Linked DNA regions of Homo sapiens: all the other regions are reported to be linked to region 3. Evidence: microRNA targets listed by miRTarBase, many of them from high-throughput screens and not tested one by one. Region 3 holds a microRNA gene; each other region holds the end of a gene's coding sequence.
Evidence for each region. The annotated mature microRNA hsa-miR-3605-5p reads UGAGGAUGGAUAGCAAGGAAGCC and lies in region 3 at 2,848-2,870, opposite strand. An mRNA with a match to its seed (bases 2 to 7 or 8) in the 3' UTR can be bound and repressed. Matches are read on the target gene's strand: a 7mer-m8 pairs with bases 2 to 8, a 7mer-A1 pairs with bases 2 to 7 and ends in A, and an 8mer does both.

Region 1 (4,290 bases), not on the chromosome of region 3:
ATAAATGTCAGAGATAAAGGCGGTCAAAGGGTCAGGACAATTGTTTAATTCCCAACTTCATAAATAGAGAAAAATTGCATAGCATCCTAATTATTTCATTGTGGTTTGCATGTTGATCTTGAAGTTATTTTTCTTGTTCTATTTGAGGAAGAAACACTACTTTACATGAAAACAATGAGGGGAAGCCCTTTTTCTTAAATGCCCTCAAGCTGTGGCCAATCTTACCTCTGGTCAGTTGCTGATTTTGGTCCTGTCCTGCACATTTCATTTTTTAGGGATACTGGGTGCCCACCTTTGCTCCCTGTTCTCTGGAGCTGTGCTGTGGGATGCAGGGACTGCTAGGCATGTTGCGCCTGGTAAAAGTCTTACTGTATTTTGAAGACTTAGTACCCTAAAATGTCAACTATCCATTTTTTTCTATTGATGATGACCTGTTGAAATAATCCTCTAGGTATACTGAGTTAAATGTATTACTAAAATTAATTGCACCTTTCTCTTTACTTTTTTCATGTGGCTACTAGAAAATTTAAAATTTCTTGTGTAGCTCACATTTTTTCTGTGGGACAGTGCTGGTCTAGAGTTGACTTGTGGGTGGGAAGTGCGGCTTTGGAGACAGGTTTCCCACCCCCGTTATGAGGGGCAGTGGTATCTGACACAGAAAACCCTTCAGACTATCAGAATACATCTCCAACCCCAGACCTCTCTATCCTCAGAATCACTTCTCAAGGTCTCTGATCATTTTTTTTTCTCCTCTCTTCATTCAGACCTGCTCCACAATATCCACACCAAGTGCCCAGATCCACCCACACCGCCTATATTAAGTGAGAAGCCGACACCTTTTTTCAACAGTGAAGACAGAAGTTTGCACTATCTTTCAGCTCCAGTTGGAGTTTTTTGTACCAACTTTTAGGATTTTTTTTAATGTTTAAAACATCATTACTATAAGAACTTTGAGCTACTGCCGTCAGTGCTGTGCTGTGCTATGGTGCTCTGTCTACTTGCTCAGGTACTTGTAAATTATTAATTTATGCAGAATGTTGATTACAGTGCAGTGCGCTGTAGTAGGCATTTTTACCATCACTGAGTTTTCCATGGCAGGAAGGCTTGTTGTGCTTTTAGTATTTTAGTGAACTTGAAATATCCTGCTTGATGGGATTCTGGACAGGATGTGTTTGCTTTCTGATCAAGGCCTTATTGGAAAGCAGTCCCCCAACTACCCCCAGCTGTGCTTATGGTACCAGATGCAGCTCAAGAGATCCCAAGTAGAATCTCAGTTGATTTTCTGGATTCCCCATCTCAGGCCAGAGCCAAGGGGCTTCAGGTCCAGGCTGTGTTTGGCTTTCAGGGAGGCCCTGTGCCCCTTGACAACTGGCAGGCAGGCTCCCAGGGACACCTGGGAGAAATCTGGCTTCTGGCCAGGAAGCTTTGGTGAGAACCTGGGTTGCAGACAGGAATCTTAAGGTGTAGCCACACCAGGATAGAGACTGGAACACTAGACAAGCCAGAACTTGACCCTGAGCTGACCAGCCGTGAGCATGTTTGGAAGGGGTCTGTAGTGTCACTCAAGGCGGTGCTTGATAGAAATGCCAAGCACTTCTTTTTCTCGCTGTCCTTTCTAGAGCACTGCCACCAGTAGGTTATTTAGCTTGGGAAAGGTGGTGTTTCTGTAAGAAACCTACTGCCCAGGCACTGCAAACCGCCACCTCCCTATACTGCTTGGAGCTGAGCAAATCACCACAAACTGTAATACAATGATCCTGTATTCAGACAGATGAGGCTTTCCATGGGACCACAACTATTTTCAGATGTGAACCATTAACCAGATCTAGTCAATCAAGTCTGTTTACTGCAAGGTTCAACTTATTAACAATTAGGCAGACTCTTTATGCTTGCAAAAACTACAACCAATGGAATGTGATGTTCATGGGTATAGTTCATGTCTGCTATCATTATTCGTAGATATTGGACAAAGAACCTTCTCTATGGGGCATCCTCTTTTTCCAACTTGGCTGCAGGAATCTTTAAAAGATGCTTTTAACAGAGTCTGAACCTATTTCTTAAACACTTGCAACCTACCTGTTGAGCATCACAGAATGTGATAAGGAAATCAACTTGCTTATCAACTTCCTAAATATTATGAGATGCTGGCTTGGGCAGCATCCCCTTGAACTCTTCACTCTTCAAATGCCTGACTAGGGAGCCATGTTTCACAAGGTCTTTAAAGTGACTAATGGCATGAGAAATACAAAAATACTCAGATAAGGTAAAATGCCATGATGCCTCTGTCTTCTGGACTGGTTTTCACATTAGAAGACAATTGACAACAGTTACATAATTCACTCTGAGTGTTTTATGAGAAAGCCTTCTTTTGGGGGTCAACAGTTTTCCTATGCTTTGAAACAGAAAAATATGTACCAAGAATCTTGGTTTGCCTTCCAGAAAACAAAACTGCATTTCACTTTCCCGGTGTTCCCCACTGTATCTAGGCAACATAGTATTCATGACTATGGATAAACTAAACACGTGACACAAACACACACAAAAGGGAACCCAGCTCTAATACATTCCAACTCGTATAGCATGCATCTGTTTATTCTATAGTTATTAAGTTCTTTAAAATGTAAAGCCATGCTGGAAAATAATACTGCTGAGATACATACAGAATTACTGTAACTGATTACACTTGGTAATTGTACTAAAGCCAAACATATATATACTATTAAAAAGGTTTACAGAATTTTATGGTGCATTACGTGGGCATTGTCTTTTTAGATGCCCAAATCCTTAGATCTGGCATGTTAGCCCTTCCTCCAATTATAAGAGGATATGAACTGAGTTTTTCTTTTGTTGTTTGTTCTTAGCTGTAATTCCTATGCTTCTATTTCAGAGAGCCAGGAGAGTTTGATATTAAAGGAGGTTAAAACTGTGATCTTATGCCATGTCATCAATGGCCACTTAGGGGCCATGGCTGATGACACATTCTTATCTCTACAGTACTAATGTGTTATTATAGAGCCATGCATTTTATTTCTGAATAAGAACATATTTAAACTAATATTCCCTTACAATATGGACAGTATTAATCCTTCCAAGATGCAGTATTTATCAAGTGAAGCATATTTAGCAGCAAATTCCATTTTAACATAACTTAGGAACCAATAACCAGGGTGTTTTGTGGTTGGGGGAGGCACGGGGTGGAGTATTCTTTTTTATATCCTCAAAACAAAAAAAATCAATACTTATATTTCAATGGCAATCTAGTATTTTTTTAAAAGACTGTATAGGCATGAATAATAGAGGTGGTTTGAGTTTTGTAGGGCCATCACCTGGAAAGTCAATGTGACTAGACACAAAGTAGCCCAGAGGCTACTTTTCTTCCTACAGCTTATTATAGTTGTAGGTTCTATGACCTCACTTCATGGGTTCCAGGCAATTCCGCTGAAAGGTTTGTCTCCTGAAATTTTTTAAGTTTGTTTTCCTGACACATGTAATCAGATGTGTAGCAACCGAGGGAAACGAAGCCTAACATTCTCCATTGTGGAAATACACACAGGAGGTTACATTTCACAGCGTGGATTTTTCCAGCTTACACATGTGGGATGACATCACAGAAACCACAAAAGCAGCAAATTAAACTGTAGGAGAGTCAATACTCCTGACGAGTCTCGGGGGGGGGGCATTTTTATGCCTTCTTAACTTTATGAGAATTCTCAGGCTGAACTATAGGCCATTGTTCCCAGGCAAATCAATACATCAATGCATCCTCAAAAAAAAAAAAAAAAAAAAAAAACCGGCTAAAACTGTGTCAAAATGTTCTTAAGGAGCCTATGGTCTCCACGGTGCTAAAAAGAGCCTGGTGCTGGGCCGACTGGCAGGGCTGAGCATCCTCCTGCCCCCTCGCCACTGATGTTTACTAAGCACTCTGAGCCAATGAGACCCCCAGCAGCAGAAAGGGCACAAGGTGGCGCCAGGGCAGCAGGGCCAGATCTTTCTCATGCACCTCGACCTCTTGCAGACTTTCTTCGTGAGATGTACTACTCATTTCAAAACTGCTTTGCAGGGCTCCCCTATGTATTCGGGGGGCCCACGGCACACTCAGGCTGGAGATCCTTCCTCACTGCGCTCAAGATGGCCTCAGCCAGACACCAGTTACCCAGCTGAAAGTCACAATCCCTCCCAGAAGTCTCCCAACACTAGTGCTGACCAGAGGTGGGGCTCTCAGGCTAGGAGTTTCACACACAATGACAGGCTGCTGGGGGACATTGCAGGACCCCTTTTCCTCTCCTCTCC
Region 2 (4,254 bases), not on the chromosome of region 3:
GCGGAGCCGCGGGTGGGGGCGTCGGAGGCGGCGACGAGCCGGGCAGCCCGGCCCAGGGCAAGCGCGGCAAGAAGTCTGCGGGCTGTGGCGGCGGCGGCGGCGCGGGCGGCGGCGGCGGCAGCAGCAGCGGCGGCGGGAGTCCGCAGTCTTACGAGGAGCTGCAGACGCAGCGGGTCATGGCCAACGTGCGGGAGCGCCAGCGCACCCAGTCGCTGAACGAGGCGTTCGCCGCGCTGCGGAAGATCATCCCCACGCTGCCCTCGGACAAGCTGAGCAAGATTCAGACCCTCAAGCTGGCGGCCAGGTACATCGACTTCCTCTACCAGGTCCTCCAGAGCGACGAGCTGGACTCCAAGATGGCAAGCTGCAGCTATGTGGCTCACGAGCGGCTCAGCTACGCCTTCTCGGTCTGGAGGATGGAGGGGGCCTGGTCCATGTCCGCGTCCCACTAGCAGGCGGAGCCCCCCACCCCCTCAGCAGGGCCGGAGACCTAGGTAAGGACCGCGCCGCTGCACCCCTTCGCCTCTCAGGTGGCAGACGGCAGGCCGGCCAGGCCGCGGTTCCCAGTCCACCTCGATTTCCTCCCCTCTCCCACTCTCCGCTCAGCCTTCCCACCTCACTTGGCACCGTTGCCTCGCGCCCCCAGCGTCCCCGGAAGGCCGGTCTGACCCCGCTAGGGAGAGCAGTCTCCAGGGGGATGCGCCCTGGTGAGGGGTGTGTGTGCGCGTGAGTGTGCGTGACAGGAGGGGAGACAGAGACACCCAGGGTCACGGGTAAGGACCGTTTTGTCAGCGCCACCCTTTCTTTCGGCTTTCAATTTTTGTTCTCCTTAAAACAAATGTTTTAAAACAAATTCCACCTCCTCCTCCTTTCCACCCACCCACTTCCTCTTGCCCTTGGGCTGAAATCCTTCCAGGTTGTTCAGCTTAATTTCTCAGTGGTGGTGATAAGAACAGTGCTCACTAGTCTTAGAAAACAGCCGCAGAGACCTAAACAATAACCGACTCCCCCCCCCCCCTCTGGGTTTTTGCAGATGTCATTGTTTCCAGAGAAGGAGAAAATGGACAGTCTAGAGACTCTGGAGCTGGATAACTAAAAATAAAAATATATGCCAAAGATTTTCTTGGAAATTAGAAGAGCAAAATCCAAATTCAAAGAAACAGGGCGTGGGGCGCACTTTTAAAAGAGAAAGCGAGACAGGCCCGTGGACAGTGATTCCCAGACGGGCAGCGGCACCATCCTCACACCTCTGCATTCTGATAGAAGTCTGAACAGTTGTTTGTGTTTTTTTTTTTTTTTTTTTTGACGAAGAATGTTTTTATTTTTATTTTTTTCATGCATGCATTCTCAAGAGGTCGTGCCAATCAGCCACTGAAAGGAAAGGCATCACTATGGACTTTCTCTATTTTAAAATGGTAACAATCAGAGGAACTATAAGAACACCTTTAGAAATAAAAATACTGGGATCAAACTGGCCTGCAAAACCATAGTCAGTTAATTCTTTTTTTCATCCTTCCTCTGAGGGGAAAAACAAAAAAAAACTTAAAATACAAAAAACAACATTCTATTTATTTATTGAGGACCCATGGTAAAATGCAAATAGATCCGGTGTCTAAATGCATTCATATTTTTATGATTGTTTTGTAAATATCTTTGTATATTTTTCTGCAATAAATAAATATAAAAAATTTAGAGAACCTTAGAGTTTGGTCTATATTTTTAAAACTAAAGATTAAGTTGGTGGTAAATACCTGCTTGTTTAATTCTAGAGGCACCCAGGAGGGAGGGGGCACTAATATAAACAAAGCAATGAAAAACTCAAATAAAGCAGCTACTGACAGGCACAAGCATGTTATTTTAAAAGACAGCTTTATTATTATTCCAGTTTGGTATTCAGAGGGCTTAGTAGCATCTCTTCATCTCTTACTGTCTCCAAACAGCAAAAACTTAACAAATTTGCTATTCACCTCCTTTTTATTTTGAGGTGATAGTTGTTAAAACAGTTAAATGCAAATAAGGAGTATAAAACCTGCACTATTCTCTTATTATGTACTTTTTGTCATGCTCTTCACTCTTTGTGAAGATTCCTAAATAACAGGTTCTTTTCAGTGAAAACATATATAGTGTTATGAAAATTATCTATACACATATAGAAATGACCAGAAATGCATAGAAAATAAAGTGTAAATCAGCAGAAAAGAGAAAATTCCATTTGTAATTTGCTTAACTCTTCTCTCATGAATGAATATGACGTTTAGTGTCATGTTTGCTAAAAAGAAAAGTTAATATATCGCTATATTGACGCTATTTGGGAAGCATCATTCTTTTTTTATGTGTAAAGAATATAAGGCTGTGGAATAATATACAAAAATGAAGATCCTGAACTTTCAGTATCCTTGGTAACTGGATATAATCACAGTTGGAATAATCACAGTTTTAAATACTACAGCTATGCAGTTACTAGTCAGTTCATTAGCGTTATATTTTATCCAGAATTACACAGAATTTTTCCCTGGTGAGATCATACATACACACACACACAATCTGAAGTTAAGTAAAACAATAATGGGCAAACGGGGGTGTTTGATTTTTTATTTCATTCTGATTATTTGTGGGCCAGGAACATACTGGCTTTTATAATTAACATTATTAGAAATAGTGATTTTGTATCAGTTCTTAGCTTTTACATCCGATTTACTGCATCCAAGTGTAACTGGGGAAGCTTTCAAACTGGAAAATCATTTTGGTGCCTGTTTCAAACAATGACTAATAAGTGTATGTATCCAAACAGATCGTTTTTGCTTAGCTCAGGTCAAAGTTATTTTATTGCCTGAAGGTTTTTGTTTTCTTCTTCACACAGCACCATAGAATGCTGACATAAGAATATTATGAATTTATTGTTAATATTTCAGACTATATTTTACAATAAGGAGTCTGCAGCATTGACTTGTATTAAAAGGTTAGTGAAAGCTTGGAGAAGTATTATTATTTTTTTATTTTGATAGTCCTTTAGCAAATAACAGAAAGGGAAGGCGATTATGTGTTGGTGTATTTGTTGGGGGTGTGTGTGTGTTGTGTGTAAGGCAGGTTAGAAATGTAAGGAGGGTGCCCTAGGAGGATGAGGGAAAGCATTAGGTTGGTAATTCTTTTTTGTATGTATCATCCAACCACCTCCATTTTCTAAATTATTCATGGGGAGTCTCCTTGTTCACTAGCTTGGTCTGACTATTTGATATTTCAGATTTCTTAAGGTACACCAGGATGGAGCTGGCCATGACTGCTGAGAAGGTAATTGTTATCTTAACTCTGGATATAAGAACTAGATGTGTCAAAGAAAGGTAGCTCTCCATTTGCCTTTCTTTTATTTCTTTCTTTTTTTAATGTGTTTTGCTTTTTCTACTTTTTTCATAAGGGGAAACACTTTGGAGAAAAGCAAATGCCATATTTATAGTAATATTAAATACTAATCTGAAGGTAATGTTTCCCCCCAGATTTTCAGAGAAATAAATGAATGAAAAAGGTGGTAATTTTATTTTGAATGAGGCGACTGCACAATGAAAAATATTAACTACTGGAATGCAGTTTCCAGCTTGCAGATTCTAATCCCTACCCCTGTATACACAAGACATAAATCGTGAAATTCTTTTTTAGAATAGAAATGAAGCCACCTGTTTCTTTTCCTCCACCATTATATCTTCTTTTGATTTTATGTTATTTCATTTTATTTTTGCTACCTACCCTTATTTAAAGAACACATAGAATGAATTACCTCTTGTTTTCGGAAATAAGAAGCTAAGGCTTTCCAATTAATGTGTTGGTTCACTTGGGATCTTTTTCCTTCAGAATGCATTTGCTAGGGGAAAGTATTGTATTAAATTGTCTTGGGTAAATTGTAGAAAATTTAATGTTTCCTTTACTGTGCTATTGATTACTTTTATTTATAAGTTGGTCAGATTGATAGCCTTTAGTTATAAGAAAGCAGTAATTTTTTTACCCATATGCACATTTCCCCTTTTGTTCACAGAAGCACATGTCCAGATGATAATTCACGCACAGTTACAGGTTCCCCTCCCCAAAGTGGAACGTATTATTAATAAAATAATGTTAAGGAGCAGAAACTTGCACGATGTGTGTAAATTTTTTCCCACACTCAACAACGGCACAAGCTTCTTGACCCTTCGGTCTTAAGGTTCATATTCATAATGGAGCTTTTTAAGGGACATTTGGCCTCTTGCAAAAAAGTAGAGCATTTTG
Region 3 (4,000 bases):
TGGCATACAGCTGGTGCTAAAAAATATTTAATGACTGAATACCCATGTTCCTGGTAGAGACCTTCAAGAACTCTGTGCTCGCGTGTTCAGGGAGGCAAAAAGGTGGCAAAACAAAGGGTGGAGGCTGCCTTCTCACCCAGCCCTCCACGTAAGGCAGGAGGTTACCTGAGCAGCCCAGGGGAGACCCCATTTCCGTGGCCCCAGAAGCCAAGGATGGAGGCAAACTGGAAGGTGGGGTGATGTTGAGGCAAGGCCACGGAAGGGGGCAGGGAACCTTGTAAGCACCCATGGGTCTAAATGAAGGGACCTACTGGGGTGCAGAAGGCTCGACTGGACAGGTCTACAAGGAATGAGAGCACAGCAGAGTGCGCTGAAGTCGGCAGCTGGAGGGGACCGTGGTGTCGAGGGCCATGGAAGGGAAGCTGTGGGGACTGTGGGGATGGAGCTTCAGGCTCTGCCCGCCTCTTACCTGCTTCTTGGTATCCTTGGTAAGTGGTGGCAGACTGGCTTTGCTGGCCCGACGGCGGTTGTGGGTCGCAGCTCCTGCCTTCTGCAGCTTGCTCCGGTCTGAGTGGAAAAGTCCCACCCGTTTGGTGCATCCCACGTTGTACCTTCAGGGACAGGGGAACAGGGGATGTCACAGTAGTCATTGTGCTTATGGGCCGTAGGCAGAATGAGCACAGCCAAGCTGTCTGACAAATTTTGAGTCCATCTATTGGTTCAGATCCTAACTCCATCACTAACTACTAGCTGTGTGACTTTGGGTTTAAGTCACTTAAGCCCTGATCCTCCGTTTCCTTATCTGGAGTTGGGGGTAATACCACTCACTTTCTAGGTCTGGTCTTACAACATGAGATAATGTCTGTAAAATGTTTGAGACACCTGGACTTGGACCAGGGCGAAAGCTCACACCTGACTTATTCCACTATAAATGTTACCCTGTGACGGGAAACTACTGTCCACTGTCCTGCTGGGGAGTGGCCTGGCTGCTCCAACAGCCTGAGGGGAATGAGGGCTGAAGATAGCTGAACTCTAGCTTGGCATGCAGAACACCTCTGTCTGGGACCTAGAGATTTCTTCTCTTCTGGGATTTCAGGGCTTCAAGGTCAGCTGTTGCTTCCATTGTGGTACAAAGACCACACATGGCTTTAGAATTGGACAAGCCTAAATCCCCAGGCCCATGGCTTATTAGCTATGTTATCTGAGGCACTACTACTCCTTTGTACTTTGGCTTCCTAACCTGTATAAAGGGGACAATAGTAATACCTGTCTTGGGAGTTATTTTGAAGATGAGATAATCGTATCAATTGACTGGCACAGTGACTAGCACACAGCAGGTTCTCAGGAAATGGCAGTGGTTTTTATGATGACCATTAGTGATCTATGCTGGGCGAGAGCTCACCAAGGGAACACTATAGCTGTGGTTCTGGGTAAGGCTTACCCTAACAAGGCAGGGGCTGTCAATGCTAGGAAAGGCGAATGGGTGCCAGTGGAGCCCAGGAGGGCCAGCCGAGCCAAAGCACTGCGGCTTTTCCTTGGACTCCCGCTGCTCTCTCCCACCTGCTCTTAGGGGTTCTGGCTTCTCGTGCTTGTTGAATTAGGGATGCCATCCTGCTTCCAGGTGGGTCGAGGAACTAGGAAACTGGAGAAGCCACCCCTATGGACCTCCTGGGGTAGACTATTAATGGCAGGAGGTGGGACATAAAGTGCAGTCCTGGGGAAATGGAGGGGGCTGGGGCCACTCACCTCTTTGCACAAGCCATGGAACAGAAGCGCTTGGAACGCTTGAACTTATAGGCAAAGTCCACCCGGCCACAGAGCTCACACTTGAGTTTGAGGGGAGCACCCTCCTCTTTGGATTCTGAAAAGTATAGAAATGGGTAGGGTGGAGAATGAGAAATTCCTGCAGGACTGTGGCCAGCCCCACCACGGGGCCTCCCTACTCCATCCTGCCTGGTCCTCCTGCTCCCACAGCTGTGACATACAGCAGCATTCTAGCATGGAAAATGCCAGTGGTTCTCACCCCTGGAATGCACTCAAGGGTGTCTGGGGATGCCCCTTGTAGACTTGACATTTTTTTCTTCCACGTGGTCTGAGTCTGAGGCAAAACACAGGTGGGGAAGAATCAGCATCAAATGACTGTGGAAGAAAGCAGGAGCCCCCAGGAAATACTCTGGATGCTGTCACAGCTGCTCCGCTGGCATCATCACACCTTGATCTATGCAGCTGGCTGCTGACCCAGTAAAAGACCTCAGGAGCCCACGCTCCTGCAGCTGTGCAGCTCTGTCAGTGCTTCATGTGGAAAGAGCAGCCTTGCCTGGTCTCTGCTGTGACCTAGAGCTGGCCCCAGTCTCAAGGCAGGGACGAAGGGCAGGACTTGCCTGGGGCCACTCCTACAGTCATGCCTAAAACTTGCCAATGATTCCCACAGGAAAAGCCATTCTTGGGATCCTGTGGTTGGCTGGAGGGGGATTGGGGGAGCAGAGGACACATGGTTCCCGTGATTTCCCCTATCCCTCTTTTTGAGGGAAGGAGGCTGAGGAGGTGCTGGGGGAAATGTTTACAGACTCGCTGGCTCAGGGTTCCTCTGGGGAAACAGAGAGAGGAAGTGTGTGAGGCCTGCCTTTCCAGCCACGCTGGGAGGCCGAGAGATTCAGGGTCTGAGATGCCCACCTTGCAGATAGGGCTCCTCCATCTCCGAGTCAGTGGTGGTGGTGTGATCCTGCTGTGGAAGTTTCTCAGGCAGGAACCCCTGTGCATACTTCTTCTTGAGATTCCCCACCAGCAGGGACGAGCGTCCCACCTAGAGGACAGGTAACACGGAGGCCGTGAGGGTCAGGTGGGAGCGGCTTCCTTGCTATCCATCCTCATCACAATTACACGTATAAAGTATCCAGGCACAGAGGCCAGCCCTCCTCAAACCTTCCCCCATGTCATCATCCAAGTGTGCTGGGCTCAAGGCCCTATTTTGCTGGTTGGCTCACGAGGTAAGATGCTAATGGGCAAAGTACAGGGATGGCTTCTGTCCAGGACCAACGGATGGCTCAGGAGATTAGGAAAATGTCTATTCCAGTAAGAGTCTAAGGGCTGAGATCAGGTTTCCCACAGTGCCAGATCAAGCACCAAGACCCAGTACCCACGCATCTCCAGGCAAGGACAGAGCGGAGTCTGTGTGAGGCTGTACATACGAGAGAGAGACTCAGCACCCATTTTCTGATTTTTTTACTGTTCTCCACCTTACCCCAATGCCTGACCCAAGCCAGAGGTACAGGCCGCCACAGAGTATAGCAGGAAAAAACAGACCCTGGGCCACAGAGCCAATGAACTCTCAGTTGTCAGAACCCCAGAGCAGCTTATTTACGCGTTTAGATCTCCTTTTGTGGCCTGTGTTTAGGCAGCCTGGTAGCCAGTCACGTGGCACCGACTCTAGGGCAATGCTGGGGGTGCTATGCAATCTGCCTCCACCCCATGAGATCAGGTGGTTTCTAGTGTTACTCTAGGAGGCCCAGTCTAACAGGGAAGGGATGTAACAGAGCGAGAGCCACTTCTAGCTAAGGTGTTCCAGGCAGATTTCTTTGCCACTGGCCTTGGACAACCTCCAGTGGGAAAGAAGACAAGAAGCTATGTGTCTTTTGGCATTTTACAGGAGCAGTTCACCCATCTCAGTTAATCAAGCTCCGCGTCTTCTGCAGACTAATCAAACCACTCATGGAACCAAAGAATGAGGAAAAGGCAGATGGTATCCCAGAAAGGTGTCTTCTCCAACAGCCAGATACTTTTCATCAGAACAGAGGCTGGTGTGCCGCTGGCTCTGGGCTCCTCCACACCCACAGGGCAGCACCACTGTCTCCAGTGCACACTGCACAGAAGCAGCTCTGGGTGCTTTGGTCAATAACCCATCTTCGTGGCTCGTGGATATTTCTTGTTAGTCTTAGGCTTCCATCGTGACCTTTCTGAGTGCCCCTCAATCTCATTAACTCCCCTTTCAAGGCTCTGTCCC

Region 1: the mRNA of ADAM12 is a reported target of hsa-miR-3605-5p. Seed matches in the 3' UTR shown: 7mer-m8 at 1,989-1,995, 7mer-A1 at 3,214-3,220, 8mer at 3,760-3,767 and 7mer-m8 at 3,883-3,889.
Region 2: the mRNA of TWIST1 is a reported target of hsa-miR-3605-5p. Seed matches in the 3' UTR shown: 8mer at 1,237-1,244.

The regions. Positions count from the first base shown.
Region 1 is chr10:126,013,814-126,018,103 of GRCh38, reverse strand. ADAM12 (ADAM metallopeptidase domain 12) reads left to right here. Exons shown (of 23, transcript NM_001288973.2): 23 at 765-4,290. The coding sequence ends at 825. Among named protein-coding and RNA genes, the nearest start is that of FANK1-AS1, 43 kb to the right of the region's middle.
Region 2 is chr7:19,112,911-19,117,164 of GRCh38, reverse strand. It overlaps TWIST1 (twist family bHLH transcription factor 1), which reads left to right. Exons shown (of 2, transcript NM_000474.4): 1 at 1-494; 2 at 1,034-1,697. The coding sequence ends at 452. It overlaps LOC124901597 (a long non-coding RNA gene), which reads right to left. Exons shown (of 3, transcript XR_007060241.1): 3 at 3,920-4,254. Among named protein-coding and RNA genes, the nearest start is that of TWIST1, 2.6 kb to the left of the region's middle. RefSeq lists enhancers at 1-239, 263-522.
Region 3 is chr1:33,329,602-33,333,601 of GRCh38, forward strand. MIR3605 (microRNA 3605) reads right to left here and starts at 2,891; the gene lies at 2,792-2,891. It overlaps PHC2 (polyhomeotic homolog 2), which reads right to left. Exons shown (of 15, transcript NM_001385109.1): 11 at 2,674-2,803; 12 at 1,747-1,861; 13 at 470-611. RefSeq lists enhancers at 1-482, 483-983.